Homo sapiens: one gene and its partners. The protein of the gene in region 1 interacts with the protein of each later gene in a pairwise test. Each region holds a gene or a part of one and is shown in the gene's direction. Other genes may lie near its edges. The genes, in order: C1orf94, TENT5D, GSE1 and DOK6.

What was found.
Region 2: the proteins of C1orf94 (region 1) and TENT5D interact in binary tests that used the Homo sapiens proteins (3 or more experiments, as listed by UniProt).
Region 3: the proteins of C1orf94 (region 1) and GSE1 interact in binary tests that used the Homo sapiens proteins (3 or more experiments, as listed by UniProt).
Region 4: the proteins of C1orf94 (region 1) and DOK6 interact in binary tests that used the Homo sapiens proteins (3 or more experiments, as listed by UniProt).

The regions. Positions count from the first base shown.
Region 1 is NC_000001.11:34,200,631-34,208,252, forward strand, and holds part of C1orf94 (uncharacterized protein C1orf94), read left to right. Parts: intron 1-141; coding exon 142-402; intron 403-1,453; coding exon 1,454-1,629; intron 1,630-7,526; coding exon 7,527-7,604; intron 7,605-7,622.
Region 2 is NC_000023.11:80,415,300-80,423,859, forward strand, and holds the start of TENT5D (terminal nucleotidyltransferase 5D), read left to right. Parts: upstream 1-5,147; 5' UTR 5,148-5,264; intron 5,265-8,560. UniProt on the Homo sapiens protein: Catalyzes the transfer of one adenosine molecule from an ATP to an mRNA poly(A) tail bearing a 3'-OH terminal group.
Region 3 is NC_000016.10:85,658,322-85,665,321, forward strand, and holds part of GSE1 (genetic suppressor element 1), read left to right. Parts: intron 1-1,056; exon of another isoform or gene 1,057-1,354; intron 1,355-2,824; coding exon 2,825-3,444; intron 3,445-4,659; coding exon 4,660-4,772; intron 4,773-5,022; coding exon 5,023-5,293; intron 5,294-6,693; coding exon 6,694-6,807; intron 6,808-7,000.
Region 4 is NC_000018.10:69,403,684-69,411,305, forward strand, and holds part of DOK6 (docking protein 6), read left to right. Parts: intron 1-7,622. UniProt on the Homo sapiens protein: DOK proteins are enzymatically inert adaptor or scaffolding proteins. They provide a docking platform for the assembly of multimolecular signaling complexes. DOK6 promotes Ret-mediated neurite growth. May have a role in brain development and/or maintenance.

The DNA.
Region 1 (7,622 bases):
GGCTGAAAGAGAGTCCCCCAAAGTGGTCCAAGCCTCAGGTGTGTGCTGCAGAGGATTCATCATTTAGTCCACAAAAAGGTGCTTCCAGCATCCAGCACTTGGCCTTCCAGAGGCATTGACTCAGTTTCTTTCCTGCTACAGAATGGAGCCCTGGCACCAAGGAGCCAAAAAAGGGTCAAGGGAGCCTCTTTCTCAGCCAGTGGCCCCAGAGCCAGAAGGACGCCTGTGGTGAGGAGGGTTGCTGTGACGCAGTGGGCACCGCATCACTGACCCTGCCGCCCAAGAAACCTACATGTCCAGCCGAGAAGAACTTGCTCTATGAGTTCCTTGGGGCCACCAAGAACCCAAGCGGGCAGCCGAGACTTCGAAACAAAGTGGAAGTGGATGGGCCGGAGCTGAAATGTGAGCTGACCTACCCAGGGAGGGATTGGAGGGGAGGGGGTTGCAGTGACCCTCACAGGCTTCAGGGTGGCTCTGTCACCAAGTGGCTGTCTTATCTACTGCCTTTCTAGAGGTGTCAGTTTTTAAACCCATAAAATGGGGGCAATGACTTTCTCCCCATATCCCTTGTTGGGAATACAGTTGCTAGAGAAGTGTAGTTGGCTTTCAAGGGTCACGTCAGCATTATTAATGGTCACTTCTGAATATAGCCCTGACCCAGCATGTATTATATCCTCTCAAATTGCCCAAGCCAAAACAAAAGATCCTTGCTTTAGATTATTTCTATATTGAGATTATGTTCCCGCTTTCTTTTCCTACAAGGGTTCTAGTCAAACCTCTTTTCCCAAAAGGATGCCAATAAGGGGAAACTGAGGACCCATTTCTGATTTTATAAGCCCCCACAACATCTTGTAGAAAGGAAGAATCCAGGATTCTGATCTTGAAACAACTCAACCTAACTTCATTTGTTTAGACCAATTTTGAGTCACTGCATGCTGAATTATTTAATGTTTTAAAATATAATTTTTAAAATTCCCATATAGATACAACAACCTGTGAAAGTTTCTTAGTGTTGCCAAATATATGTCCTTAGGGAGGGGCTGCTTTAATCATTTGATAAGGATGAATTCCAATGGCATAGCAATGGTTCACATAAAGTTGGATTTTTCCAAAGCAGTTGAAAGAATTTCATTTTGTAAGTAGGTGAAATATAGGCCTAGCAATCTGGCTTATTGTATTCCCTTGCTAAATTGCCTTCTTTACTAGTGAATGATGGAAAGAAAAGCTCCAAGCCAGACCTTCTGGGATTTTCATCCCTTCCAAACTGGCAAGGTGTGAACTAATGATGTTTACCTATAGTTGGAAATGTACTAGAACTTTGAAGAACCCTCTTGGAGCTTAAAGGACCTGACCTGTGAGACTGTGAATCCCTAAGGAAGTTGCGATGCTGAAGGTGTCCTGGCCTCTCCCTGCCTCCATCACTGACCCGCTTTGCCTCTCCTGTGACTTGCAGTTAACGCACCTGTGACGGTTGCTGACAAGAACAACCCGAAGTACACAGGGAATGTTTTCACTCCACACTTTCCTACAGCCATGACCTCAGCAACCCTGAACCAGCCACTCTGGCTCAACCTGAACTATCCACCTCCACCAGTGTTCACGAATCACTCTACCTTCTTGCAGTATCAGGTCAGTGAGCTGGCCTGGCTCTCCTGTGGACATCCACGGGGGTTTTGGCCACAGAGAAGGAGTGGCTGGCAGGGGGTCTATTTCACAGAGTCTTTAGACTCCTCTGAATCCCTTCCCTACATGCAAGAGGCTTCGCTGGGGCTATGGAAGGGCGCTGTCAACTTGTCAGCTTGTTGGTTATTTTTTTCATTGTAGTCACATCAGATCTACCCCTTGGTTCATGTGCATGCGTGCGCACACCTCCACACACACACACATATGTATATTTAGTCCTAACTTTCCATTGTCCGAATTCCAGTTCACACTGTGCTCTTTATTGCAGAGTCTCTTTGCTAGTTGTGGCTGGTTAAGTGCTTGGGCTCCCAGGAGAAGATGATGTCACAGTCCTTGTTTCCCACCTCTCTCCTGTGACTTCCTTTGAAGTTGGATGACATATATCCCAGATTATTTGGGACAGTCCCAATTTAGGTCTTCTGTTCCAGAATAATATGAATGGCATCCCTTTTCACTCTCAAGTGTCCTGGTTTGGACAACAAATTACAGTCAGCCCTCTGTATCCATGGGTTCCAAATCCACAGATTCAACCAATCTTGGATGGAAACTACTTGAAGAAGAAAACAACAACAACAACAACAAAATACAACAACAAAAAATAATGCGAGTAAAAGATAATACAGTATAATAACTATTTACATAGTACATTATTAGGCGTTGTTAGTAATCTAGAGATTAAAGGATACAGGAGCATGCGCATAAGCTACATGCAAATACTATGCCATTTTATATTAGGGACTTGAGCATCCTCATATGCCATTTTATATCAGGCACTTGAACATCTTTATATGTCATTGTATATCAGGGACTAGATCATCCTCATATGCCATTTTATTTTATTTGAGACAGAGTCTCACTCTATCGCCCAGGCTGGAGTGCAGTGGCATGACCTTGGCTCACTGCAACCTCTGCATCCCAGGTTGAAGCGATTCTCCTACCTCAGCCTCCCAAGTAGCTGGGATTACTGGTATGTGCGCTAATTTTTGTATTTTTAGTAGAGACTGGGTTTCACCATGTTGGCCAGGCTGGTCTTGAACTCCCCGCCTCATGTGATCCACCTGCTTCCACCTCCCAAAGAGCTGGGAGTACAGGGGTGAGCCACCGCACCCGGCCCTCAAATGCCATTTTATATCAGAGACTTGAGCATCTTTGTATGTCATTTTATATCAGGGACTTGAGCATCCTCAGATTTTGGTATCCACAGGGCAGGGGAGGGAGGGTGGTCTTGGAACCAATCCTCTGAGGATACCGTGGAATGAGTGTATATGGCCACCTTACTTAAACTACACCAAGCAGTCTTAGCTTTGTACCAACCAAGGTGGCTTGGCACACATTCTTGTTCTTGGGATCATAGCTAAAGGAGAAAATCAATGGCCAGACACAAAGGGACAGTGAAGCACCTGTAGCAGGGCTGGAAATTCTACTCACAGAACTTATTTATGCAGGGAAAATGTAGTTTCTTTATTTTGTCGATTTAACTTAATATCCCTTAAGAGCTGCCGCCCACTGGGTAGAAGGAGGGAAAAATTAAATAAATGTCCACTCTGGTTTAAGCCTTAGCCCAATCCAATAACTTAAATAGTCCCTTTAGGTAGAACTCAATTTTTTCAGGAAAGATTCTCCATGCCTAAGATTTCTGTCTTCTGTTCCTCGCACTGGCTTCTCTCCAGAATTGTATGTCATTGTATGGGGAAGGGCAGGAACTCAAATTTGTGCACTCAGGACCTTGGCAATTTGCTGCCCCAGCCTGGCCCAGCACAGCCTGAAGTGAGAAAGCAAAGAAGGAAATACTTCCAACTCGGCTTGTCCTGTTGCTATGTCCCTTCCCCGCTCTCCACTCCTAGGAACCCTATGTCATTCTTTCCCTTTCAACACAGCACAAACCTTATGTCCTATTGGGAAAGGGGATTGGCTCTTCTGCATATAAAGACTCTTCAAGCTGGTCCACCAGGCTTAGTTTCTGAATCTTAAAGGAACTTAGCAAAGTCTCTCTCTGTTTTGTTTTCAAGCTTTTTGTTTGTGTGTGTGTTTGCTAAAGAGAACAAGTACCCGTCCCCTCCCGAGGGAGGGAAAGCTCACACCCCATTGTGGAGGTGAGAGGTTGTGATGAAAGGTGACCTAAGAAGGAAGCTGAAGTGGACCAGTTTCATATTAGTAGTCTATTGTCATGGACCTGTTCATATCAGTAGTCTATTGTCCTTACACAGGTCTTGAAATGTCCTGTTCATTGATTCGCTGACTCCTTTACCAATATGATTCTACCCTTTCATTTTTGTGTGCCTATTCACTATTCATTTACTCACCTACTCACGATTTACTCATTTCTATGTATTTATTTACTCATTAATTTAAGTAATTTTGAAAACCATTTCTCCCTACAAGCCTACTAGAGGCTGAGCATTGTTCTAGGTGGAGGGATTCAAAGATGACTAAAGTCAGGTGTGGTGGCATGTGCCTGGAGTCCCAGCCTACACCAGAGGCTGAGATAGGAGAATTGCTTGAGCTCAGGTGTTCAAGACTAGCCTGAACAATATAGTGAAACCCTGTCTCTAAAAAAAAAAAATGATGACTAAGAAAAGCTTGGAGTCTAATGCAAGTTCAGGAATAAACCAGAGATCAGCTCTATGCATCTCCACCTCTAAAGGGGAAACAACTGCATAATTCATTTAGTACAAGTCGATTCACTCTAAAATGCCCTCACAGAGCTCACCGTGTAAAACTAATTTGCAATGGTTTGCTTTATTAAGTGGGGATAGCATCTCTTTGCTATGTTAATTTCTTCTGACTTTTTGGAGTGGGTGAGATTTGGACATATCATTTTCTGAGCATGACGGTCCTCTGTCTTTAGCATCATAGGGCTGACTATGAGGTTCCTGGGCTTCTGAGCAGAAGCAGCAGAAGGACCCTGGCTGGTAAGGCCTGCTGGGTTCTTTGAGACAGTTTAAGCACTGAATGGGCCCAGCTGAAGTTGGCTGTGGAAGGCATTGGTCCTCCCAGGTAATAAGGAAGGACAGCATAATTTACCTTCTCCCAGCTTCTGTGATCTCACAATGCTGTCCAGCTTCAACATAGCTGATCAAGGGGCCTGAGATAATAGCAGGCAGGTTTTGAAACCAGTAGACTTGACTTTAAAGGTTCTGCTGCTTCCAAGTTAGGCCTTAGGCTGGTTAGCTGCTCAGAGCCATGGTTCCTCATTTGTGAAATGGGTTCATAATAATTGCAGCAGCAGCAGCAGTAGCTACTGATATGGTTGTAAGGATTAATTGAGTCCATGGAAGGGTAAAGACTCTGTAAAATTTAAGCTGTGACACAGATGTTGGTTTTTATTATTATTCAGCCTCAATCTTCCAAGGAAATGGGGTCAGAGAGCTCCACAGACCTTGAGGGGACAGAGAGGAGAAATGGGGAACAGTCTAGCCTGGTCTTTTCCCTGTTTAGCACTGGGAATAAAGATAAGGTCCCAAATCCAATTTACTCAGAGCTCTGTGGTAGGAGGACTCAGAGATGTGAAAGACAAAGTCCCCAACACCGAGGAGCTTCAGAGGCTCCTGGGCTACTTGGCATAAAGGAACTCTGCTCCCAATGAAGGAGGGAGGGTGCGTGGGAAGGGACCATGGCTTAAGCAAAGAACAGTGAATGTTTATTTACCCTTGCCTGTGATGTTACAAACTTGCAATTCTAACAACTAGAAATGTTGTTGAAGTCATGCAGTGTTTTCTAACTCATGAGTGTGGCACCATCTCCTGAGAATCCGCCCTGGGACTGAGCAGCGGTGGGCAGCTGTTTGCCATCCACAGAGCCTAGGGCAGCCTGGCACAAGCAGGTGTGGGATGGTGGAGGCTGGGGAAGTTGGCTGTAGAAAGCAAGGGGCACCTTCCTCCCTGGTGCTCCCAGGAGGACCAGGGCCACCAGCTTAAGCCCTCTGCTGTCCCTACTGTATGGGCTCCTGTGAGGGGTGGATGGCATGGCCCATGCTGGGCATTCTGGAGACTGCTCAGTGCTGTACCTGAGGGAGAAGATGATGAAAAAGAGGCAGAGGGAAGATGAAAGATTCCCATAGGGAAGCTCAGCTGCTGCAACTTAGGCTCTGCGGTCTGGAGGCATAGCTCTGGTCACCCTCTAAGAGGGTACGATGAGTCTCAAAAATGGTGACATGGAATGCTCCCAGCAGAGATCTTTGTGTATGATGCCGTGCACACACACAATTGCACACAAACGATATCCATGCATGTTTGATGCACACACATAGAAACAGAAACAGGCAGGCGCACGACTGCCTGTAGAAAGCAGAGATGAGTGCTAACAGGGATCAGAGGAGGCGGCGAAACAGAGGAGGGACACTTAGCAACATGCCTAGTGGCCTTGGAGCTCATGGAGGGCTGAGAACAGGTAAGGCAACACCATCAGTCTCACTGCTCTGTCCAGGTTCAGGCAGAGGCTGGGGTTGCAGGGACCGGGCAGTGGTCATAACAGGAGAGAGAGGCTGCCCTGGGCTGTAGAGCTTGGAGTAAAGGGGAGCAGGTGAGTGGTTTCAGGTGAAGGAGTGGACAAAAGTGGGAGGGGCCTGAGCATGGGAATGTCAGGAGTGTCCCCTGCATGGGAGCAGAGAGCAAGGAGGGGCTCTGAGAAGAGGTACACTCTTGGGGACCTGGAAGATGGAGCAGGAGGAGAGCAGGGAGACCTACTTGCAGACTCCATATCAGAAAGTCCACAGGCCATGAGGGAACCCTCAAGGGTGTAGGGTCAGCCATCATCAACACTTTGGTCATTGGCACAAGCTGAGCTGAGAATGGAGGCAGCCTCTCGGGCAGCAGATCTTCTGAGAAGATGTCCTGGGCTGAGGGGTACTTTGGGTTTTGAGCCTCATCTTAAGGGAAAACTCGGGATTGACAGGTGGAGGCAGAGTCTGAGACTAGAACTGACCACTGCCACAGCAGCAGTTCTGCGGGGTGTGTGTGTGTGTGTGTGTGTGTGTGTGTGTGTGTGTGTGTCTTACGTCTGTGTGTGGACACATGAGCACCTCAAGACAGAATTGTGAGTAAAATGTCAATTTCCCATCTGGCTGAACTGCCAGAAAGCTGTTTAAGGGAGGAGGCAGTGATGGATGACAAACACACTGAACATTGAGTCCTTACTATGTGCAGGGCACTGTTCTAAGCTCTTTAGATGTATTAACACTTTCACCCTCACAGTGCCCCTCTCCGTAAGCTACAGACACAGGTATATGGATGGGCACATAGATACACAGCAACACTAACACACCTGGGTTCACAGTTGTATATTTGTACACAGAAATACACAGCTGCATAGACACAAATGTAAACACACATGCAGGTGTATTTAACATGGATGCAAACCAACACACACACGTAGAGACGTGCATAGACACCTTGTGTCTTCAGGGGGCAGGTATGGGATTAGGGGAAGGCATTTAGAAAAGTTGTGTGGACAGCAACAAAGATAATGTGGCTACCTTCATAGGCTTTGCAGGCCTGAGCACATGCAATTTTTTAGAGAAGGAAAAAGAGGCTCAGAGATGTGATTTGCCCAAGGTCACACAGCCACTAAAACACAGATCTGGGACTCGGGAGGCAGTCAGGCTCCTGAAGCTCCTGTCTCCCACACTCATCAGAAAGGCTGTGAAGGCTGCCTAAGAGGGGCTTCCTGTGTGATGTGAGTCCTGCTTCTCCTGGCCTGGTTCCAGCTGGCCTCAGACAGCCCATGGGTCTGGTCAGCAATGTGATGGGACAAACTCAGTCCTGTCTGGGAACTGAGCTGAGTAGCTGATGCCTTCTGGCAGGAAACCCCTTGCCTGGCCATACTGAGCCTCTGTTTCTCCCCAGGGCCTGTACCCACAGCAGGCAGCGAGGATGCCCTATCAGCAGGCTTTGCACCCGCAGCTGGGATGTTACTCCCAACAGGTGAGTAGACGATCTCTC
Region 2 (8,560 bases), on another chromosome or scaffold:
GTTTTGCCTGATTTTTCTAGCTAGGACTGCCAGTACTGTGTTGAATAGGAGTCTTGAGAATGGGCATACCTGTCCTGTTCTGGTTTGCAAGGGAAATCTTCCAGCTTTTGCCCATTAAGTATGATTGGCTTTGGGTTTGTCATATATGGCTGTTATTATTTTGAGATATGTTCCTTCAATACCTAGTTTATTAAGATTTTTTAACATAAATGGATGTTAAATTTTATCAAAAGCCTTTTCTGCATCTATTGAGATTTTCATGTTGTTGTTGTTTTTAGTTCTGTTTATGTGAACATTTATTGATTTGCATATGTTGAACCAACCTTACATCCCAGGGATAAAGCCTACTTGATCATGATGGATTAACTTTTTAATGTGTTGCTTGATACGGTTTGCTGATGTTTTCATGAGGATTTTTGCATCCATGTTTATTAAGGATATTGGCCTGAAGTTTTCTTTTTTGTTTTGACTTTGCCGTTTTGTGGTTATCAAGATCTTGTTGGCCTCATAGAATGAGTTAGGGAACAGCACCTCCTCCTCAGTTTTTGGGACTGGTTTCAATGGGAATGGCACCAGCTCTTCCTTATACATTTGATAAAATTCAGTGTGAATCTGTCTGGTCTTTGTACTTTCTGATTTTTAGGCTTTTTATTACTGATTTGATTTTAGAACTCATTACTGGTTTGTTCAGGGATTGAGTTTATTCCTGGTTCAATCTCAGTTGTTGTATGTTTACAGGAATTTATCCAGTTATTCTAGGTTTTCTAGTTTGTGTGTGTAGAGGTACTCAAGGTTTTTTTCTTTTTTTTTTGTATTTCTGTTGGGTCAGTGGTAATGTCCCTGTAGTCATTTCTGATTTTGTTTATTTGGATATTCTCTCTTTTGTCTTTACTAATCTAGGTAGTTGTCTATCTTATTTATTCTTTCAAAGAACCAACTCCTGGCTTCATTGATATTTTGAATTTTTTTTTTTTTTTTTTTGCATCTGAATTTCCTTCAGTTCGGCTGTGATTATGGTATTATCTTCTGCTGGTTTGGAGGTTAATTTGCTTTTGTTTTTATTTTTCCTCTTTACGTTATGTTAGTTGGTTTTTTTTTTTTATCTTCCTAACGTTTTGATGTCATCGTTTAGTGTTATAAACTTCCCTTTAACACTGCTTTAGTTGTGTCCCAGGGATTCTGGTATGTTGTCCCTTTTTTCTTACTAATTTCAAAGAATGTCTTGATTTCTGCCTTAATTTCCTCGTTTACCCTGAAGTCATCCAGGCACAGGTTGAATTTCATGTAACTGTATGGTTTTGAGCAATTTTCTTAGTATTGATGTCTGTTTGGGGTGGGGGGTGCTGTGGTCTGAACATGTGGTTGGTATGAATTTTTCTTTCTTTCTTTCTTTCTGGAATTTGCTGAGGATTGTTTTTTGGCTGATTGTGTGGTCAATTTTAGAGTATGTGCCATGTGCAGCTGTGAATTTATATTCTCTTGTTTTTCAGAGAATTCTGTAGATGTCTATTAGGTCAATTTGGTCAGGTGTTGAGTTCAGGTCCTGAATAACTTTGTTAGTTTTCTGCCTCAATGATTTTTCTTATACTGTCAGTGGGGCATTGAACTCTCCTGCTATTATTGTGTGGTTATCTAAGTATCTTTATAGGTTTTTAAGAACTTGCCTTATGAATCTGGGTGCTCCTGTGTTGGGTGCATATATCTTTAGAATAGTTAGGTCTTTTTGTTGAATTGAACCCTTTACTACTATATCATTTCCTGATTTCTCCTTTTTGACTTTTGTTGCTTTAAAATCTGTTCTGTCTGTAATTAGTATAGCAATCCCTGCTTTTTTTTTCTATTTTCCATTTGTATGAAAGATTTTTCTTCATCTGTTTTCTTTGAGTCTGGGTGTCATTATATGTGAGATTGGTCTCTTGAGGACAGCATACCATTGGATCTTGTTTCTTTATCCAACTTTCCAATTTGTACCTTTTACTTGAGGCATTTAAGCCTTTATGTTCAAGGTTAATATTGATATGTGCAGATTTCATTCTATCATCATGTTATAAGCTATTCATTATGCAGATTTGTTTGTGTGTTTGCTTTATTGTATCAGTCATCTGTGTGCTTAAGTGTGTATTTGTGGTGGCTGGTAATAGTTTTTTTTTTTTTTTTTCCACTTTTAGCCCTATCTTCAGGACCTCTTCTAAGGCAGGTGTGGTGGTAATAAATTCCTTTAGCATTAGCTTTTCTGAAAAGAATCTTATTTTTCCTTCGCTTATGAAGCTTAGTTTGACTGGCTATGAAATTCTTGCTTTGAATTTCTTTTATTTAAGTATGCCGAATACAAGCCTCCAGTGCCTTTTGGCTTTTAGGGTTTCTGTTGAAAGATCTATTGTCAGCCTAATGGAGTTCCCTTTGTAGGTGATCTGCTCCATTTTCTCTAGCTTCCTTTAACATTTTTTCTTTCATTTCAACCTTGGAAAATCTGATGACTTTGTGTCTTGGGTAAGGTCATCATGTATATTATCTTGCAGGGATTCTCTGCATTTCCTGAATTTAGATGTTAGCCTTGTTAGTGAGCTTGGGAAATGTTCATGAACAATATCCTGAAATAGGTTTTCCAAGGTGTTTGCTTTCTCTCCTTCTCTTTCAAGGGTGCCAATCAGGTGTAGACTTGGTCGCTTTACATAATCCTGTATTTCTTGGAGGTTTTATTTATACTTCTTTAATATTTTTAAAAATTTTTTTCCAACTGAGTTATTTCAGAGAACCAGTCTTTGAGCTCTGAGATTATTTCCTCATTTTTGCCCTAAAATGCCACAATTCACTCAGTAACATAAAAATCATTCTTACTTGAAAAGGGATCTTTAATGATTTTTTTTTGAGTCAGGTTCTTGCTCTTTTGCCCAGGCTGGAGTGCAGTGGGGCAGTCATGCTTCACTGCAGCCTCGAACTCCTGAGCTCAAGTGATAATCCTACCTCAGCCTCCCAAATTGGTAGGATTACCAGTTCATGCCACCATGCCCAACTAATTTTTTAAATTTTTTTTCAAAGACAGGGTCTCATTATGTTGCCCACACTGGTCTCAAACTCCTGGCCTCAACAGATCCTCTTGCTTCAGCCTCCCAAAACTCTGGTTGATTTAAAAAGTATATGTATCCAAAATGAGTCAAAAGAGAATGACACTATTGGTCAAATTGGGAATTATGACCTTTGGAATGAATGGGGATGAAACCAGAATATTTGGATTGCTAAACAGCTATTTAGCAGTAGTTGTCTTTTGACTTCTGTTTTGTCTTTTCTTCTCCCAAAACTCCTTCCTCCTATCTTCTTTCTCACTGATACTTGTACTATCTTTGTTATTATACTGTTTTGACTTTTTATATTGGTAAAAGACATATTTTTAAATCTTTATAAAAAGATAGTTGAGAATTTGACCTATATCTGATATATGTATTTTATTTTAGAATTTGACCTATATCTGATATATGTATTTTATTTTAAACATGTAGTACTTTACAGAATTCATTATTGCTGATTAATGAAACTGCCTTATGACATTTTCAGATTTCTTTCCAATAACCCTTGCTTGTATATTAAATGGCACCCTACAAAATATCTGATTTCTTATTCTACTTAAAACCCCTCCTCCACCCCCTACCTAGCTAGCTAACTCTTTGTTCATCATGTCCATTTTATCTGTTACTCTTTTCATGAATTTCTTTGCATAATTTGTTTTTTATTTTTTTCAATGGGATCATAGACCCTACCTCTATTCTTCACATTCTTTTGAATGAGGATTGAGTTAATTAAAGCACTTAATACCTGACACATTATAAGCATCATATAATTTTTAGTTATCATTGCCATTTAATTATGTTTAAAAATTCTACACTCAAAAGTTTAAAATTAAAAACTTATATTCAGTATTATATATATCATGTAATGTAATTTTCATATCTTTAAGAAACTGTACACGTATATTTTTCTTTAAAATTAAACTCCAGTGTAACATTCTTTATATACAAGGATTAGGATTATAGTCTTAAATGTTACTAAAAATTATTTATTTCTTTGTCATATATTATACTGCCAGGAAAACATTGAGTAGGTATCTTGTTTTACCTTTGGCCCCTCCAAAATGTATTTAGTCTTTTCTATGTTTTACTGGAAAATGCTATAAATTATCTATCTTAAAAATATCACATGGATCACTGGCTTAGCCAGACAATTTTCTTCCTATATCTACCTATTTGCCTATCTTTGTAATCTTGATATTCTTATTCAAACAGTTATGTGATAGTTTCTATAAATTGGACATACTGTAACAAAACATTATTTTGAGAAGAACTCTGTCTTTTAAATGTTCTTTTTAAAAATTAGTTGTTGGCACTCAAAACAATTATACTTATCAACCATAATACTTTTTTAACTGTTTCTTTTTGAGACAAAGGCTTGCTCTGTTTCTCAGGCTGGAGTGCAGTGGTGTGATCATGGCTTACTTCAGCCTTGACCTTCTGGGCTCAAGCAATTCTCCTACCTCAGCCTCCTGAGTAGCTGGAATGACAGATATGCATCCCCACACCGAGCTAATTTCTTTTTATATTTTTTATAGAGTCGAAGTCTCTCTATCTTGCCCAGGCTAGTCTTGAACTCCTGGGCTCAAGTAATCCTCCAGCCTCAGCCTTCCAAATTGCTGGGATTACAGGCATGAGCCACCATGACCAGCCTCTTTTTAATTGTTTAAGAATTTTTTTTAAAACAAAAACATGTTCACTTGGGGGTAAAAATTAAATAGAGAATATTTTCCCAAATTCTGTATTTCAGAAATTACAACTTAATTTTGAAGTTACATGTAGGCAGTTACAATACTTACAAAACAAAAATGTTTGCCTATCTGTGTGAATCTGCATGGTTTAACTGGTTATTTTCACTATTTTTTTCTCCTTCCTCCCTCTTCACTATTTTTTAACTTAAGTTCAAGTATCTTGAGGAACCTGTTTTTAATCTTTAATATATCTAGTATAACATTGTCTTTTTTGAGATTTGGGACTCAGAATTGCCCTATTTAAATTTATTTTTTGAAAATTCCCCCATCTATAAGAGCATTAATGATGCAATAATAATATTCCTTGTCTCCTGGCAACAGTAACCCTGGAATTGCAGCAAGTGAGGTGTAGAGAATGTGTGGAGATCAGGTGATGCAGAACTCTGGTAAAGGATGTTAGTCTTCAGAGTAAGACTGTTAAATTCAGCAAAGTCTACTATCAGAAGACACGGTGAGCAATCTTGTAGAAAGGGAGTTTTTCTTTTAGTTTTAACTCTGAGCACACATCAAAATTGACGTTTAATTTATATTTTGTCCAGAAACTTATTTGATTCAACTAAAATATCTTTGAAAATTATCTCTTTCATTAATAACTGTGCCCAAAATCATGGCTGTGGTAAAACTGAACTCAGTTAATATGTTTAAAAGGGCATCAATAATTGTTTTAATATTTTATTTTCTGAACTAGCTCAAGAGTAAGAGATAAAAGACATAACTGATACGTTGATATAGTATTAAGAATTATGTTTTTTCAGAACTCTAGAGTAAGAGAGTTACAAAACTCCCTACGTCCTACATTAATTGACTGACACATTGACATCTCAATAAATAGCCTGATGATGGATTATTTTCAAACTTTAATTTGTTTCTGAAGTGAAGTATTAAAAGACTATACCTAATTCCTTTTTTGATATCAAATGTTTTTAATTACTACATACCAGTGAAAGAAAGTTATTGTCAGGTAATCAAGCATGTTTACATATCTGTATTTTTTTTATATAGTCCTGAACTTCCTTTTCAGATTATTTTTTTTCCTTTAAAGCACTCATGTCTTATCTCATTTGTATAGTTTTTGTTTGTTTGTTTGTTTTTTAGATGGGGTCTCACTCTGTCACTAGGCTAGAGTGCAGTGGCATGATCTCGGCTCACTGCAATCTCTGCCTCCCAGGTTCAAGCGATTCTCCTGCCTCAGCCTCCAGAGTAGCTGGGACTACAGGCATGCACCACCACACCCAGCTAATTTTTTTTTGTATTTTAGTAAAGACGGGGTTTCACCATGTTGGCCAGGATGGTCTTGATCTCCTCACCTCGTGATCTACCCGCCTCGGCCTCCCAAAGTGTTGGGATTACAGGCGTGAGCCACCGTGCCTGGCCTCACTTGTATAGCTTTTAAGTACCTTAAGAGTGAAGTTACCTTATTTTCCTCTAGTAGAACAATTTAATGCAAGTAAAGTTTAGAAAAATAATCAAATTAATCATAAACTGAATGGATTTTATTAAGCCAATTGTATTTTAAAATAGCAAAGACTGCATTTTGAAATTGTTTCTTTAAAGAATGCCATTATCATTCACCCTTTTTCTCCTATGAAAATTAACTGCAGATGTGAGAGAAAATATGAGGACCTGAATATCTGTAGCCAAACTAAGAGTAGAAGGTGTTGAAATGAGGGAGGGGACTTCCCCATGATAAGGAGACTTAAGGAAAAAAGTGACTAGAAAAAAATGCCACGTCTTTCAGCAAAACTGCCTTCTGAGCGTGAACTTAAATTTGTATTTGTGTTGGAAATGCTTGAAGAAATGTGAGGAGAAGGAGGAGTTATTTGTGTGTCGGGGGGTGGGAAAAAAAGTGGAGGTTACTGAGTGGGAGGTTGGGAATTCATGGGGCAAGTCATTATTTATAAGAAAAAAAGGGAAAATAGTTTTTGGTATAGGAAAGGAGAAAGGTAGTAGTATCCCATGGGAGAAAGTTCAGCAATGAAGGAGAATGGAAAGTAATAAGAGATCACCCCACCTAGGGTAGGTAGAATCCATATGATTCCTTCTTTCTTTATTTCTCTCCCTTTAAAAAAATGCCTTTCATGGCTGGGTGCAGTGGCTCATGCCTGTAATCCCAGCACTTTGGGGGGCTGAGGTGGGTGGATCACGAGGTCAGGAGTTCAAGACCATCCTGACCAACATGGTGAAACCCCGTCTCTACTAAAAATACAAAAATTAGCTGGGCATGGCAGCGCATGCCTGTAATCCCAGCTACTCGGGAGGCTGAGGCAGGAGAATCGCTTGAACCTGGTAGGCAGACATTGCAGTGAGCTGAGATCGCGCCACTACACTCCAGCCTGGCAACAGAGCTAGACTATGTCTCAAAAAAAAAATTGCATTTCATTTTATCTTTCTTTAATGGCCCCTTCTCTTGCTTGCCTACTAGCAGGCTCCCTCCTGAGCCTCACGCTAACACCACACCCCTGTAGTTTTTCTCCTTGATGGGATGGGTTTGAGGAGAGCAGCAGTTGGTGAGGTAAGTTTTAATGTCTGAGAGGGTGCGGTGAGTAGACGGGGAGAGCTATGAACAGAAGTTTTTTGGGTTTTTTTTGTTAGTAAAAGGCTTTTTCTAGAAACATTGGGATGAGTTTCTACTTTTCTCCTTCCTCAGATAGTGTTTAAGAGGGATGTGAAAGATGTATATGGTGTTGGCTATAATTCTGGAGTCCCCTTCAGAGAATACTTAATTCCTTGAGTGTTGACAGGGTTATCCACAGAGGGGTTAGTGATTTGGAATGATGTGGATAAAGCTTATGAGGTTACTGGGTTTACTGTGAGGGTCATGGCGAGTTGTACAGCATCCAGTGCAGAGAGAATGGCATTTTGGTCTCACTAGGTGGCTTTACCTCCCAGCTTGCTTGAAAGCCTGTTGTACTTCAGAGTATTCTCAGCGATTCCCTTCAAAAGGGGCTGGAGATTTCTCTGGCCAGCTTGCTTCTCTGAAATTGGTGGCAGTTTGGAGAGGCAGCAACTCTGCATCATTTACATCAGAAGCAAGAGAAGCTCACTTGGTGACTGTTGAATTCACATAGCTATAAATCTTTACCAGCTACAGCCACTGGAAGGGGCAGAGGAAGAGTAGGAAGGGGAAGTAGTACTACTGTTGTAGTTTTCCCAATGAAGCAAAATATGTAGCAGTATTTTGTTGTTTGAGATAGTATCCAGAGTTTTTTTTTTATATTTAAGAGAATTAAGGAGCGTGGACACAAGGGTGAATTTCAAGTGAAAGTTTAATAAGCAAAAGAAGAACGCTTTCTGCAGCAGACAGTGGGGCCCAAAGGGGTTCCCCACCATGAGGCCGGGGTTCAGGGTTTTTATGGACCGGGATGGGAAGGAATGTGCATAGTTTGCAGGCTGTTTTGAGGAAAGTGTGATTTAGCTTGGTCTGGGACCAATCAGGAGCTGAAGTGATGATTTATTGGGGCTACCTAGCTTGGCCCAGGACCTAGTAGAAGCTGAAGTGAAAGCTTGGCCAAAGACCTTGGCCCTGGGACCAATTAGGAGCTGAAGCAATGATTTATTTAGGCCGAGCTTACGGTTTAAAGCATGTTTAGAAAAGAAAAAAAAAAAAGTGCCCACCAGAACCTACTGGAGCACCCCATGTACATGCCCACATAAGGAGAAGAGACTATTTCCTGGAAGCCTGCTGGTTATACAAAGGACAAAGACATTTCTATGCAGAGTCTTGTTCTCTTATTACCGTGGCTGCAG
Region 3 (7,000 bases), on another chromosome or scaffold:
TTCCATAGCTCTGCTCCAGGCCCAGCTCAGGGACCTAGGGACACTGATTCTGTTCCCTGAGCCTCACTTTCCTCAACTGTCCACAAAGGAGGGTGGGTAGGATGATTTCTGAGCATCTTTCCAGCTCTCAAGGCTGTGATGCTGTCCTGGGATAAGAAACCCTTGGGCTCTGGGACGGAAGCGTGTTGGTGGTTTAAAATCTGTCCTCCCTTCTGCCTGCCTCCGTTATCCAGTAGGGCAGCGAGGGAATGCGCCCCCGCTGATCAGGGATGACTGGGAGTGACTGTCACCAGGCCACAGCTAAGTCTCCCTGTGGCTCACACTGCCCGGCACGGCCGAAGTGAGATCCCTTCTGCCTCTCCCAGCCCCCGTCCCTGAGGCCTCTCAGGCTCAGCCTTGCCTACTACCCAGAGGACTGAGGGCAGCCAGCTCCTACCTGGCATGGCCTGATAACATCAGGGTGCCCTGACTCCTGTAGGCATCTTCTTCCTCAGGGCTCCCCAGGGCCCCAGCACAGGTGTTGTGACTTTGCCCACCCATGGACTGCTTCCAGCCAGTGTAGCTGCCCCATCCGGACCTGGGGCATGATGGGAAGCAGGGCCTGGCCTCCCCTGGCTGCGGTGGTTCCCCTGTGGCCGGCTGCACACGTGGCCTTACAGCATTGTGAACTTGGGGGCCTGACAGGGCCCTCATGCTCCAAGCTAGAAAACTGTTCAGTGCTTGGTGTGGCGCATGAAATATTTATTCTCCTGCAGGTTTCATTCCCTTGCTGTTTACTTAAGGACACAGCTTCTTCCTGTGGTTCCCTGTTGTATTCTGCTAAGAGGGACAGCAGCGTCGGATTTGTCCCTTGGCCTGGAGTCTGGAATAACTAGGGAGAGCCTTGGTGGCTGTGTTTAAACAGGGCTCCCGGGGCAGGCTAGAGATCCCTGAGCCCGGCCGTGTGCCTGCTGTGGCCTCTGCCTCTTTCTTCCCCTCAAGCTTTGCCCAGGGTCTCTGCACAGTATTGGTCCAGACATCCTGTGAGTATATCTCCCTTTAAAAAAAAGAAAGATAGCCAGGCACAGTGACACATGCCTGTAGGCCCAACTACTCTGGAGGCTGAGATGGGATGATCGCTTGAGCCCGGGAGTTCTCGGCTGTAGTGTACTATACCCACTAGGTGTCCCAGCTAAGTCCAGCACAAATATGGTGACCTCCTGGGAGCGGGGGACCACCAGGTTGCCTAAGGAGGGGTGAACCAGGGCAGGTCGGAAATGGAGCATGTCAAAACTCCCGCGCTGATCAGTAGTGGGATTGCTCCTGTAAATAGCCACTGCACTCCAGCCTGGGTAACACAGCGAGACCCATCTCTTAAAAATAAGCTGGAAAAACAATACTAAAAATAGCCCTGTGAGTAGATTAAATCTTGTTTTAATTGCACTGAGGAAACAAGCCATTTAGTGTAACTAAGGGGCAGCTTCTTGTTTAATGGAAGGGTTCTGATGTTAGAAATCCCTTCTTTCCCTCCCTGCCTCAGCAGGCCTTAGCCTGGGTCCTTGAAGACACTTTGAGGCCTCTGCCACAGGCCACTTGGGCAGTGGGGTCGCTGCAGTTGTGACAGGGGCCACTGGGGGGCAGTCTCGGCACAGGCCCCATCCTGACTGGGAGGATCTTCATTTCACAGTGGGTTTGGCTCTGGCTGGGCAGACACTGGAAGGTTGTCTTGTGGCTGCCTGCGGGGACAGTGGGGAGGGAGGAGTACTGCCCTGTGAAGGTGGCCAGCCTGCCCTGTGTCATGTGTCCCTACAAGGCACAGCAGGAGGAGAGGGTGCTGGTGGCAGGGCCACAGCCCAGTATATAGAGTGGGTTTCCCCATGGAAAGTGCGGATGAGCGCTTGCCCTTAGGGGAATTCACGCAAGCAGGTGGGAAAATCGACCGAAACTGGATCTGTCCCAGGCCTGAGAGGGTCTCTGCCTTCCCTAGCAGCTTAGGCTGGGAGCCTCCCTATCCTCTTGGAGCAGCCTGCACACACCTGCCGCAGGTGTTGGAGGGCCGGGCACAGTGGCTCACTCCTGTAATCCCAGCACTTCGGGAGGCCAAGGCAGGTGGATCACTTGAGGTCAGGAATTCGAGAGCAGTCTGGCCAACTTGGTGAAACCCTATCTCTACTAAATAGGAAAAATTAGTAGCTGGGCATGGTGGCACACGCCTGTAATCCCAGCTACTCGGGAGGCTGAAGCTGGAGAAGCGCTTGAACCTGGTAGGCGGAGGTTGCAGTGAGCTGAGCTTGCCCCACTGCACTCCTGCCTGGGTGACAGAGTGAGTCTTTTTTTTTGTTTTTTTTGAGACGGAGTCTTGCTCTGTCGCCTAGGCTGGAGTGCAATGGCACGGTCTCAGCTCACTGCAACGTCTGCCTCCTGGGTTCAAGCAGTTCTCCTGCCTCAGCCTCTGGAGTAGCTGGGATTACAGGCACCCGCCACCATGCCTGGCTAATTTTTGTATTTTTTAGTAGAGATGGGGTTTCACCATGTTGGCCAGGCTGGTCTCAAACTGCTGACCTTGTGATCCACCCTCCTCGGCCTCCCAAAGTGCTGGGATTACAGGGATGAGCCACTGCGCCCGGCCGAGTCTTTAAAGAAAAGAAAGGAAAAGAGAAAATGAAAGACAGAAACAATGATCCTTGGGGTGGAGTGTGTGTCCCCTCCCTGCAGCCCTGTTGGCACTGGCTCTCTAAGGGGCTGCGCCATCTGTGTCATCTTAGGAGCGGCAGGCAGCCAGGGAAGCCTGTGGATGACTGAAGGGTCTTTTCTCCCTGACTGAAGGGTTGGTTTCACTCCCTAGGCCAGGACCAAACCGTCACGAGCCAGGTGGCCGTGACCCTCCGCAGCACTTTGGGGGGCCACCACCTCTGATTTCGCCCAAGCCCCAGCTCCATGCTGCACCCACGGCCCTCTGGAACCCCGTGTCCCTGATGGACAACACCTTGGAGACGCGGCGGGCCGAAAGCCACTCTCTGCACAGCCACCCGGCTGCATTTGAGCCCAGCCGCCAGGCAGCCGTGCCGCTGGTGAAGGTGGAGCGGGTCTTCTGCCCGGAGAAAGCAGAGGAGGGGCCACGGAAGCGTGAGCCTGCCCCTCTGGACAAGTACCAGCCACCTCCGCCGCCACCACGAGAGGGAGGGAGCCTGGAGCACCAGCCCTTCCTGCCCGGGCCCGGGCCCTTCCTGGCTGAGCTCGAGAAGTCCACCCAGACCATCCTGGGCCAGCAGCGGGCCTCCCTCCCACAGGCGGCCACCTTCGGGGAGCTCAGCGGACCCCTGAAGCCTGGCTCGCCCTACCGGCCCCCAGTGCCACGGGCCCCCGACCCTGCCTACATCTATGATGAGTTCCTGCAGCAGCGCCGGAGGCTGGTCAGCAAGCTGGACCTGGAGGAGCGCAGGCGGCGGGAGGCCCAGGAGAAAGGTCTGCCTCCCCGCGGGCCCCGAGCTGCTCAGGGAGAGCCGCACAGTGGGGATGGGGAGCCTGCATGCCAGCCACCTGCCCCTCTCCGTCCACTCCTGCTTTTTGCCTGGGGTAGTCCCAGGCCCCAGGTGGCAAGTGCACTGGCTTCTTTGTAGCAGCATGACACCCTCGTAGGGGAGGCAGACCCTAGTCCCCGTGCCTGTCCTGCCTCGATGCAAATTGTCCCAAAAAGCCAAATCAAAGCCCGCCTGTGAAGATAGTTCCGCAGACAAGCATGATGAATAAGTGATGAGCGGAGGCTAATAAGATAGTTTTAAATATTAATAGTGCAGCATAACAGGAGAGCCGGCCTGGGCTCAGCGGGGGCTCCACATACAGGGCCGCTGCCACGAGCTGCAGCAGGTGGGTCAGGGGTTGAGGACGCGGCGGCTGGCACTGCCCCGGGTCAGGGTAGGAGGTCAGGCACTTCATTCTTATTTCTGCTTGGGGGTGGGGCGTCCTCAGCCAGCGGCTCCCTGAGTTCTCCAGAGAGCCAGGAAGAGCAACCGAGCAGGCGAGAGTGTGCAGAGGGGAGCAGGGGCTCCAGCCCAGTTTTCTTCCTGATGCTGAACACTCAGGTCCTGTCCAGTGCTGAGCTCAGCCTCCTCTTCAATAGAAGCTGGGGCACAGGCGGTCTTCCTGGTTGTTGGTCTAGGCTGGATGGAGGGCCCAGCCAAATTTCTCTCCCCTACTCACTTTGTAAAGGAGGAGGGAGATACCCCAGCGCCCCTGGGCAGGGGCTCTGCTATTGTTCTCTGTGTCTTAGAGAGCTCAGGCCTGTGTGTGCCTGTCTCCTCCCAGGAGATGGACTCAGATGGCCACAGCATGGGGGAGTGCATGTGCACAAGCAGCCCTGTGTTGCCGTGGACACAGCCCCAGGCCTGTGTGATGAATGGTTCCCTGCCAGGGGGAGGAGGGAGGTCTTGTCAGCCCAGGGGACCACCCAGCTACTGGGAGCCATGGATCCCAGGGAAGCCTGGTGTCTGCGGTCCTGCAAAGCCCCAGGACTGGGTTAATGTTGGTTTCCACCTCGGTTGAAAGGAACTGGCCTTCAGGGTGTTCAGGTGCCAGCAGGCCTGGCCTGATAGGTGCTCTGCACACATGAGGCCCTGCGGGCATGTCCACTGGACAGATGAAGGCTCTTTGTCTGGCTGAATACAACCATTTCTCCATCAGGGTACTACTACGACCTCGATGACTCTTACGACGAGAGCGATGAGGAGGAGGTCAGGGCCCACCTCCGTTGCGTGGCCGAGCAGCCGCCCCTCAAACTGGACACGTCCTCTGAGGTACTGGGCTCTCCTCCCCACGGACATGCTCTGGGCTGGGCTCTCGTTCCTAGCGTCCACACCCTGCAGTCCACCCCACTGTTGCTAGGTTCCTCCGAAGTCCTGGCGGGTTCGCCCCATGAAGCTCTTCTCCCACCAGGCGCAGCCAGCTACGGCCCACACTTCGAGGACCCCAGGAGGGGACCCCGGGACAGTGCAAGCATACCACTGCCAGTGGCTTCAAACTCATTTGTTTTCTTTCCCAATCTAGAAGCTAGAGTTTTTGCAACTTTTTGGCTTGACCACCCAACAGCAGAAGGAGGAATTGGTGGCCCAGAAGCGGAGGAAGCGGCGGAGGATGCTGCGAGAGAGAAGCCCGTCGCCCCCAACAATTCAGAGCAAGCGGCAGACGCCTTCACCGAGACTGGCGCTGTCTACCCGCTACAGCCCTGATGAGATGAACAACAGTCCCAACTTCGAAGAAAAGAAGAAGTTCCTGACCATCTTCAACCTGACCCACATCAGCGCTGAGAAGAGGAAAGGTAGGGCCTCGCCTGGGTAGGAAGGTGGGGGCTCACTGGGGTGGAAGTGGGTTTCTGAAGCAGCAGGTGGGGCCGGTGGACTCCAGGCAGGATCTGCGATCACTGAGCCTGAGGCTGCCCCTTTACTCCTCCCGGCTCCCGGGAACAGCCTCTCTGTTCTTACAAGCCCTCCATAGCAGCCTTACCTGACAGGCTTTGCTCTGAGAGCCCCACCATCTTGACCTGAGGACTACCCATGTCACTCATCCATCTCCCAGCGCCCGAGAAGGCGCTCTTTGAGCCGAGTGCTCCAGTGACCACCAGGCGTGAGGGGAGGTGCCAGGTGTTCCAGGTTTGTCTGCTGCAGGCTTTTCCTCTTGCTGGACCGCTTAGGTGGTCTGCTGGGTGTTGTGTCCTGGTGGCCGGAGGCCTGGGGAAGGGCTGCCAAGCAGGGCAGCACACACTGAGCAGATGGCTTGCCTTGAAAGATGCTTCCAGTTCAGTCTGGCCACACAGGGCCACATTGGGACAGACCCTCTGGGCTCGAATCCATATAGCAGAAGAAACAACGCAGCCACAACACCTGCTCAGGGTTTTGGCTTCCTTGGCCTGCAGCGCAGGCTGGCTTGGTGCCCAGATGTTGACGTTCCTGGCCCTGCCCCTTACGCACGCTTTCAAGTCCTCGTGGGCCCCTGGCCTCCTCTCTGGGAGAAAGTCGAAGGAAAGCAGAGTTACTTCTTGGACCTTGAGCAGCTTCAAGGTGTTGATCAGGGTGTAGCCGTTTACTTTCTCCTTTTAACCAGTCAGTAGTTTTCCCTTTCTCTTAGCGGGCTAGTGACGTGTTGATTGCCAGCCCAGTTCCCTAGATACAAAGCATCTTTTTCCCTGAATTTTTGGAGGAAAAAAAATTAAGGGCGATGCAGCCCTTGAGTTTCACAGTCAAGAAGGGCCGGGTGACATCAGGGATCTGCTGCGTGGAACATCGTGGGGTCATCTTTCCCCTTCAGGAAGTGGCAGTAATGGTAGGAGTGGGGGAGAAGGCACCCTGCCTCAGAGGCCAGGCCTGGGTCTTTGGGGTGTTTCTTTGTGTTGGGGCCACCTTGTCTGACTTGAAATAAGAATACATCCTCGCACGTCACCACCGAGGTCCGTGGGCACAGTGATTCACAGAGGCGTCGTCACCGCACGGACAGCTGTCTTTGGAGCACGTCTAGGACATTGTGTAGTGGATGCCGAGAGCAATCTGGGCTCGCTTTGAGATGGTTGCTTCCTTTCAACTGGGCCTGCCCCATCACACCTGCTTTTGGTTTTTCGGGCTTTAGTGCTTTGCCTGCCCCTCAAGGCTCGGCTAGAATCCCGCTGTCCTTCTCTCCAAAAAATGATGCAACTGGCTCGTTAATCTCAGGCTGCTTTTCTCATAGACAAAGAGAGACTTGTTGAAATGCTCCGTGCCATGAAGCAGAAGGCACTGTCAGCAGCAGTGGCCGACTCCTTGACAAACTCTCCGAGGGACAGTCCTGCCGTCTCCCTGAGTGGTAAGGGAAGGATAGCCCCACCTGCCACCACCCAGGACCATCCCATGGGCTGCCCAGGCTCAGAGGCGACCACTCGAGGTCTTCATCATTGTGAATGTGGCCTCCTGCAGGCTGTCTTCTTCCATTCTTGTACCAGCGTACGATTCTTGCACAGTTGTGACAGTCATTGGGACGGAACGTCAGTTTGAAGGCG
Region 4 (7,622 bases), on another chromosome or scaffold:
GAATATTCTAATATGCAGAAGAGTGAATTTAAATGGCAAAACTTCACATAGCTGGTTCTGTGAAGCTTACTAAGTTAAGTGAGTCCCATAAGATAGTAAAACTAAGCAAATATTGTGTGCCTTAAAGAGTCATACCCCAAATCATAAAAATTGAAGTTATCCAAACATTAATATTTGCTTTGCATAGTTAATAATACATATTCCTAATTTTATGGACTCAAAACTATGAACTTTTCCAAATAACATATTTTTTAACTCCAAGGACACGATGAGTTTTTGTGATTTATGTCCAAAACTAAATTTCAAAATATAAATAATTATAATTGAACATGCATAGATATTTGATTTATTATGGACAGTACTCATGCTTTCAAAAATCAAAGTCTGTGATATTCTAATGGAGAAAAAAAGGCCTGGATATGAGGCCGATTGCATCAGAGATAATTATTGACATGAAACATAATTTATGATGAAATGTTCTAATGTGCCCTTTGCTCTTCACAGATAAGTGCAATTTTGAATGAGGGCAGTAAGGCATTTCTTGTCCTCTAGGTAGCAAGTCAGCCCTTTCAGAGGGGCTTCCAGGTTTAAGAGGTCAAAAAGGCCCTTGCCCTGTGTCTCACTGGGGAAGCTAGCAACCTGTTGAGTACAGTCCCTTACCCACTGCTTGGGAAAGAAGTAAAATTTAGTAAGCAAGGCATATATAGCAAAATATCCAGTCAGTTTTTGGTTTGCAGCCAAACTAAGAACTCAATCACTGAAAGCATTAATAATCTAACACTTTGTGTATTGACCCTAAATTTATCAGAAATAGATGCAGCTTTGTGGAGTGATCATCATCATCATCACCATCATCACAGTCATTGTCATCAATATCACTGTACAAATTTTAGACTGCTATACCTTGACTTATTCTAGACACAGACCTCACATCATTTTTTTTCAAGGAATTCATTCAAATACATCAACATGACTATTCACAGACACATTGTATGCAGACAAAATAGTGTCTTCTACAGACATTTTACATTTCTTACTCAAACTCAGGTGAGAGATTGGTGTTGATATGTGTGGGTTCTGAAGGAGTGTCTCAGGATAGGGTGGTGTGTGTGTGTGTGTGTGTGTGTGTGTATTCAGGTACACACTCAAGTAATCAAATTATCTTGGAGTGCCCACAGTTTAAGAGGCAGTGTACACTGGTGTTTGTGTGTGTATTACAGAGTCATATTGTGTTAAGCCTGAATTAGTTATAATAAAGAACCCCTGCATCATTGCTACTGAGAGTACATCGGGCCAGTCATTGTCACTTTGCACCAACTTCGCTGTAGGGGAAGCAGGGAAATGTGGAGGGACAGATTGCGAGTTTTGAAGAGCACTAACTTTATGAGCTGAGCACCTATTGAGAATTTTGCTTTTTCATATTTTTGTTTTAACATCTTATTGTGGATTCACCTACCTCTTGCCCTTTCTCCCTTCTTGATTAAAACCTTAAGACACCTCCATTCCTGGCTTAAGGATAATTGATCTCCTTTCTGTAAACACTGTGAGTTTTCCTTTCCTCTCTCAACAGCTTTCCTCGGAGTATTTGTTCATGAGAGATATTTATGAAAATTCACCCTTTTATAGAAGCTCAATGATTAAAATAAATAGAAATAGCTGGACACGGTGGCTCACGCCTGTAATCCTAGCATTTTGGGAGGCTGAGGCAACATGGTGAAACCCCATCTCTACTAAAAATTACAGAAAGTCAGCGGGGTCTGGTGATGTGTGCCTATAGTCCCAGCTACTCAGGAGGCTGAGGTGCGAGAATTGCTTGAACTCGGAAGGTGGAAGTTGCTGTGAGCTGAGATCATGCCTCTGCACTCTAGCCTGGGTGACAAAGCGAAACTCTGTCTCAAAATAACTAACTAAATAAAATAAAATAAAATAAAATAAAATAAAATAAATAGAAATGTGCATATGTGCATTTGTATATTTTGTCCTTTAGACCATTTTACAATTTCTTTCATCTCCAAGTCTGTAAAAACTAGTTTGTAAAGAGAGATTATATCTTGCATGGCATGCATTACCAATTTCCCAAGAATTAGATGCAATAAATATATTTAAGATAAAACATATAAATAACTTAGTCATTCTGACTATTTAAAAATTCTAAAGGAATTTCAGGATCATTACTTTGTATATGAATTTCCAATATATGGATTTATGGTGCAGAAGTTATAATGAGTGTGTTTCAGTCTTTACTTGTCTAGAATATTGTGAATCCTGGACATTGTTTTCTGAAATGGATCTGTGGTATCTATGTTTATTTATCATTTGTATATTTATCATTTCTCATTAAATACTAATTTAGCAGATGACAATTTCAATTATTTGAACTCTATTTGATTCTAGATTTTTATTCATGGTGACAATTATGCATATTCCTTACGCTGTGTGTAGATTTGCCACTTACTTCTGTATCTATACATATTCCTGCAAATAATGCTAGTTCTTAGAATTTTCCAGTAAGCAAAGATCTTATATATCTTCTACCCAATCCCTATATTTTGCATTATCTTCAACTGCATGTTCGTGTGTATGACATCTGATGTATGCTTAGAAACTCTATCTCTATTGGCAATTTTTTTCCTTTTAAAAACATCCCTCTGTCTGCATATGAACATGTCCAAAGTTCTTTGAATTTCAAAAATTAAGCCAAAGACAATGAAAATTAAGGTAATTTTTACAGTAAAAACCAAATACAGACATTGTGGCTGGATTTTGCTATTAAATTATTATGCCTATGTAAGACCTGGGAGAGGTGGGTAAATCAGAGAGAGTTATCAAGATTCACATCTCAGTTTTTATCTTGATAGATTTACAGATGACTGCTGGCAAGGTGAACTTTAAAAATGGCATTCCTTTTCTTAGAAAACAAAGATAATACTCAGTACTTAAAGAGATCTTTCAAATGACTGAAATTAATAGATAGTGAGCAGGGAAGTGCTACAGTGGTCAAATATCTTTCTACGATCTACATTCCCAGTTTCCTTAAATGTCTTTCAAACACGCACAGTAATGGTGAATATTTTGGATCAGTATAAAATAGAATACGGAATAAAAAATTAGTTTAGGCTGGGTGCGGTGGCTCACACCTGTAATCTCAACATTTTGGGAGGCCGAGGCTGGCGGATCACCTGAGGTCAGGAGTTTGAGAGCAGCCTGGCCAACATTGTGAAACCTCGTCTCTACTAAAAATACAAAAATTAGCGGGGTGCAGAGGCCAGCGCCTGTAATTCCAGCTACTCAGGAGGCTGAGGCAGGAGAATCGCTTGAACTCGAGAGGTGGAGGTTGCAGTGCACTGAGATCGTGCCACTGCACTCCAGTCTGGGCAACAAGAGCGAAACTCCATCTAAAAAAAAATAGTTTACTATGAAGCATATATATTTGACATAAATGTCATCTTTTCAAAGTATTTTTATTAGTTAGCATTGCCCTCTTTGGATCATAAACCATGTAGAAACTGTTGAGTAGGACAATTAAGTATTTGTATCTTTGGACTGTTTCTATTTACATCAATTTTAGAAACTGTAGAAGATAAAAGGTATGCAATACAAACAAAATTGAAATTATCTGTAGTCCCACCATTTAAAGATAATCTCTAGATTCACATATTTTGAAATGCAGTGCTGGTTTTGAGGAAGACATAATTTCTATTAAATAAGATAAAATAATTAAAAGGGAGCATACTATGATTTCTTTAGCCTCGGTTTTATTACTTGTGCCTCACTTTAGTCACAGTATTTTCTGTTTTTCTTCAAGGTCTTGTAACTTTGTCCACAGAGTCCACAAATTCTAGATAGGGAACATTTTCATTAACTTTCTGCATAAATCCTCTTTAGATTTATTTTAAGATACAGAGCAGTATTATCCTCTAAGTAATTCATTTTTATATTGTTACACTATTACTCAATGAGAATATTGCACCTGTCAGTCAAAGTGGATAGAATAAGTAATGATATTTTGCTATAAGCAAGAGCAGAAATTAATAAAGAAAACTATTGTTTACATGGTACTTGCAATGATTAGTGATGGTTGTAACCTTTCAACATGTGCAAAATATTTTGTCTGCCATTTTCCTGAATTATTTGCAATAATTCTTGGTTAATTTTTATTTTTGGCTTAACAGTAAAATTACTGGGAACAAAGACATATTAATGCTTAGTTTGAGACTTCATAATGGTAACATAATCTCACTACATTTTGTACATATTGTGCATCTCACAACTTGTAAAGACTTATCACACATATTATATAAGTCTTATGGTAGGATTTCAAACATATATTCAATTTTTAACCCCCATTCTGTACATAAACTAGAATCCAAAAGAAGTAAGGCAAATCAGCTGGAGTTATTGAGACACAGCTTGGGTTTGTGTGTTTGTGTCTACAAACCTAGGTTTATAACTTCAAGTTCAGTGTAATAGCTGTTATAGAACAGCCACCACTTTGGAGTATATATAGACAAGTTCAACACAGTCATGTGTACCCTTCAAAGTCAAGATGCTTTCTTTGGTATCTTGGTTTAAAGCTGATACAATCATTCACTGTACTCAATGCTAAGTTATTTAGATTGCAGACAAAAATGCTACTTAGTGAAATAATTTATGTCACAATAAGGAAGTACTATGCAGATACTTGTCCAGGCCACACTGAATTGACACAATTTCATTTTCATTGATGCCAAACACAAATTCACTAACCTCTCCTTTCAAAAAAAAAAAAAAATAGAGCACCTTTCAAAATTTACATGACAGTGTCTGGGTAGAATTTTACAAGTTATTTAAATAGTTAAATATCTTTAGTTTAGCATTACCTTTATTTATGGAAGATGATATTTTATTTAACCTGGCTTTATAAAAGATTATGTTTAAATCAACTTAGTGAAAGGTGAGTTCATTTAAAGAAAACCTAAATACAAAAACTGTACAGATTAATGGGGATCTGACAAATCAAAAGGCAGTATGTGTTGACATAGTCATGCCTCACATAGTATGACAGTGTTAGCTAAATGCCCAGGCATTGACAGTACTCAACCACAGCACGATCTTAACTCAAGAGACTGGATTATTTTGTTTGTTTCTTATTTTTGTTGCTTGCTGCTTTAAAGGGGGCTTAAATCAAAATAGATGTATTTAAATTATGTTCCTTTATTAAAAAACTATTAATTTTTTAAGTTGCCTATATGCCACTCTCTTATTCAAATGTGTACATTTATACATAAAATGTATTACACGTTGATGTGGTTTGGCTGTGTCCCCACCGAAATCTCATTTGAATTGTAGCTCCCATAATCCCCACGTGTCATGGGAGGGACCCGGTGGGAGGTAACTGAATCATGGGAGTGGTTTCTCCCATGCTGTTCTCGAGATAGTGAGTTCTCACAAAATCTGATGATTTTATAAGGGGCTTCCCCCTTCACTGGGTACTCATTCTGTCTCCTGCCGCCCTGTGAAGAGGTGCCTTCCACCATGATTGTAAGTTCCCTGAGGCCTCCCTAGCCATGCAGAACTGTGAGTCAATTAAACCTCTTTCCTTTATAAATTACCCAGTCTCTGGTATGTTCTTACAGCAGCGTGAGAATGGACTAATACACATGTAGAAACGTGTGTAGTAATTTTTTCCTAACGATTTTTCCATTGTAAATATGGAATTGCTTTTTTCTGATTACTCACTACCCTTTGGCATGTTTATGTGTGTATGTATATGTGTGTACACACATATATACATATATAATGTGCTATATATTGAATATGTATGTATTTCCAAATGGCACATTACTACCCATACACATGGAATTGCTATCTTTGCTGAGTGGATAGCAGAATGCACTCCCCACCTCTGCACCAGAAGAAGATGTTCATAAAATGCTTTTGTAGAATACAAGGAAAGTTTTTAATTCTATAAACCATTTTATGTCTACATTGGTCTTTACTTGGAAAAATAGATGCAATATTTGTCTAAAATTGGAAAGTTAGTATTTTTTCCCCAAAACTATAAAAACTATAACTTTAACACCATGGCAACCAGTAAATTTTATATTTATTTTTGTTTACATAATTCTAGTAAATTTTCTCACATGCTATGCAAAAATAAGAGTAAAATTATACTTTTCACATATGTCTCCTTGCTTTGAAAAATATTCCTTTTTGTTTAAACTTACTAGCAAATAGGAATACATTTTCCAGAGTGTTTTAAAGACCGTAGGGTAGTTCTGTAGAAAGCATCCATGTCATTTTACTCTTGCTTTCATAGACTTCACCACATATTTGGAATCCTTAAGTTTTAGCTATATAAGTCTCCTAAACCAAAGTACACCTAGTACCAAGTCATGATACTGAATTTACCTAGAAGCTACCAATTTTATGTATAAGTATGAAATATACTATTCTAGACATTTAAAACTGGACAATTATTTAGCACTGTGAAGTCCACTCAACACATTCCGTTGTTTTCTGATATTTTGAATAATTATCTATATTACCTATCCCTTTATTAAAAAACAATCACTGTCAACCACGACTGCATATAGGAGTGACCTGCAGAACTTGATCCTTCCGCCTGGGCGTTCCTCACTGAATTGGCCTGCCTGGAGTTGAGTGTAGGTTTGCTTTAGAGTTCCCTCAAGTGCTTTTAATGTGACACCAGAGTTGATAATTGTTGCCATCAAATGATACTTTTTTAGGAAACAGAGAAAATATGTAACATGCTAGACTCCTCTAAACTGCGAATTACACTGTTGTTAGTGCGAAGACCTCTGAAATATAAAGTTAATTATCCATTAAATCCTTTATGTAACACTAATTTCCTGACAGTCCATAATGCTTTATAATGTGAACACAGAAGGAATACAACAAAAAATTTCTTCGATGTACAGAAATTGACTTCATAAACAATGTAACGAACGTGAGTAAATCCTTTCTGAGGACTTTCCAGGCTCTCTTGATACATGACTGATGCTTCTACCAGCAATGTGGATGCTCTTGAAAGATTTCAATTGTCTAATTTGTGTATTCTCATCTAAGTAATTAAGATACCACGGCTATTTAAATTGTACTTAATTTAAGACTCACTGAGTTCTGAACAATGCAATCATGATTTTCCCAATGGGAGATTCAGTGCATGAGGCTATATTTTTAAAAAACCAGTAGCTCAGAGTCAGTTTTGTATTCTTCATAAACCTGGGCTCATGGCTGTGAAAGACAGTTGCTACCCTGCAACACCTTGCTCCTGATATCTATGAGGTTTATGTTTTATGTTCTTTTCTTTGTTCTTTGTTTCCTACTTAAAGAGATAGGGCATAGATGGATAGATGGGGGGAGAGAAAATCGAAGCAATATATAGCACATACCTCTCGAGTTCATGCAGATAGTAGGTACCCTTGTGGTTTTTAGAGAAAGTGACCATCAAGCTGACAAGTCGTGAATTAAGAAGTGTTTGTTAAAAAGTTCTATGCATAAGACACAACATATCCAGGTAACAATATGTGTCTAGATGAGATGAGTGTGGAGTAATGAGAAAAGATCCAGAATAAGGGTGCTTGTAGTGTTCTAAGAAGCTGGGAAGTTACTGATGTGTT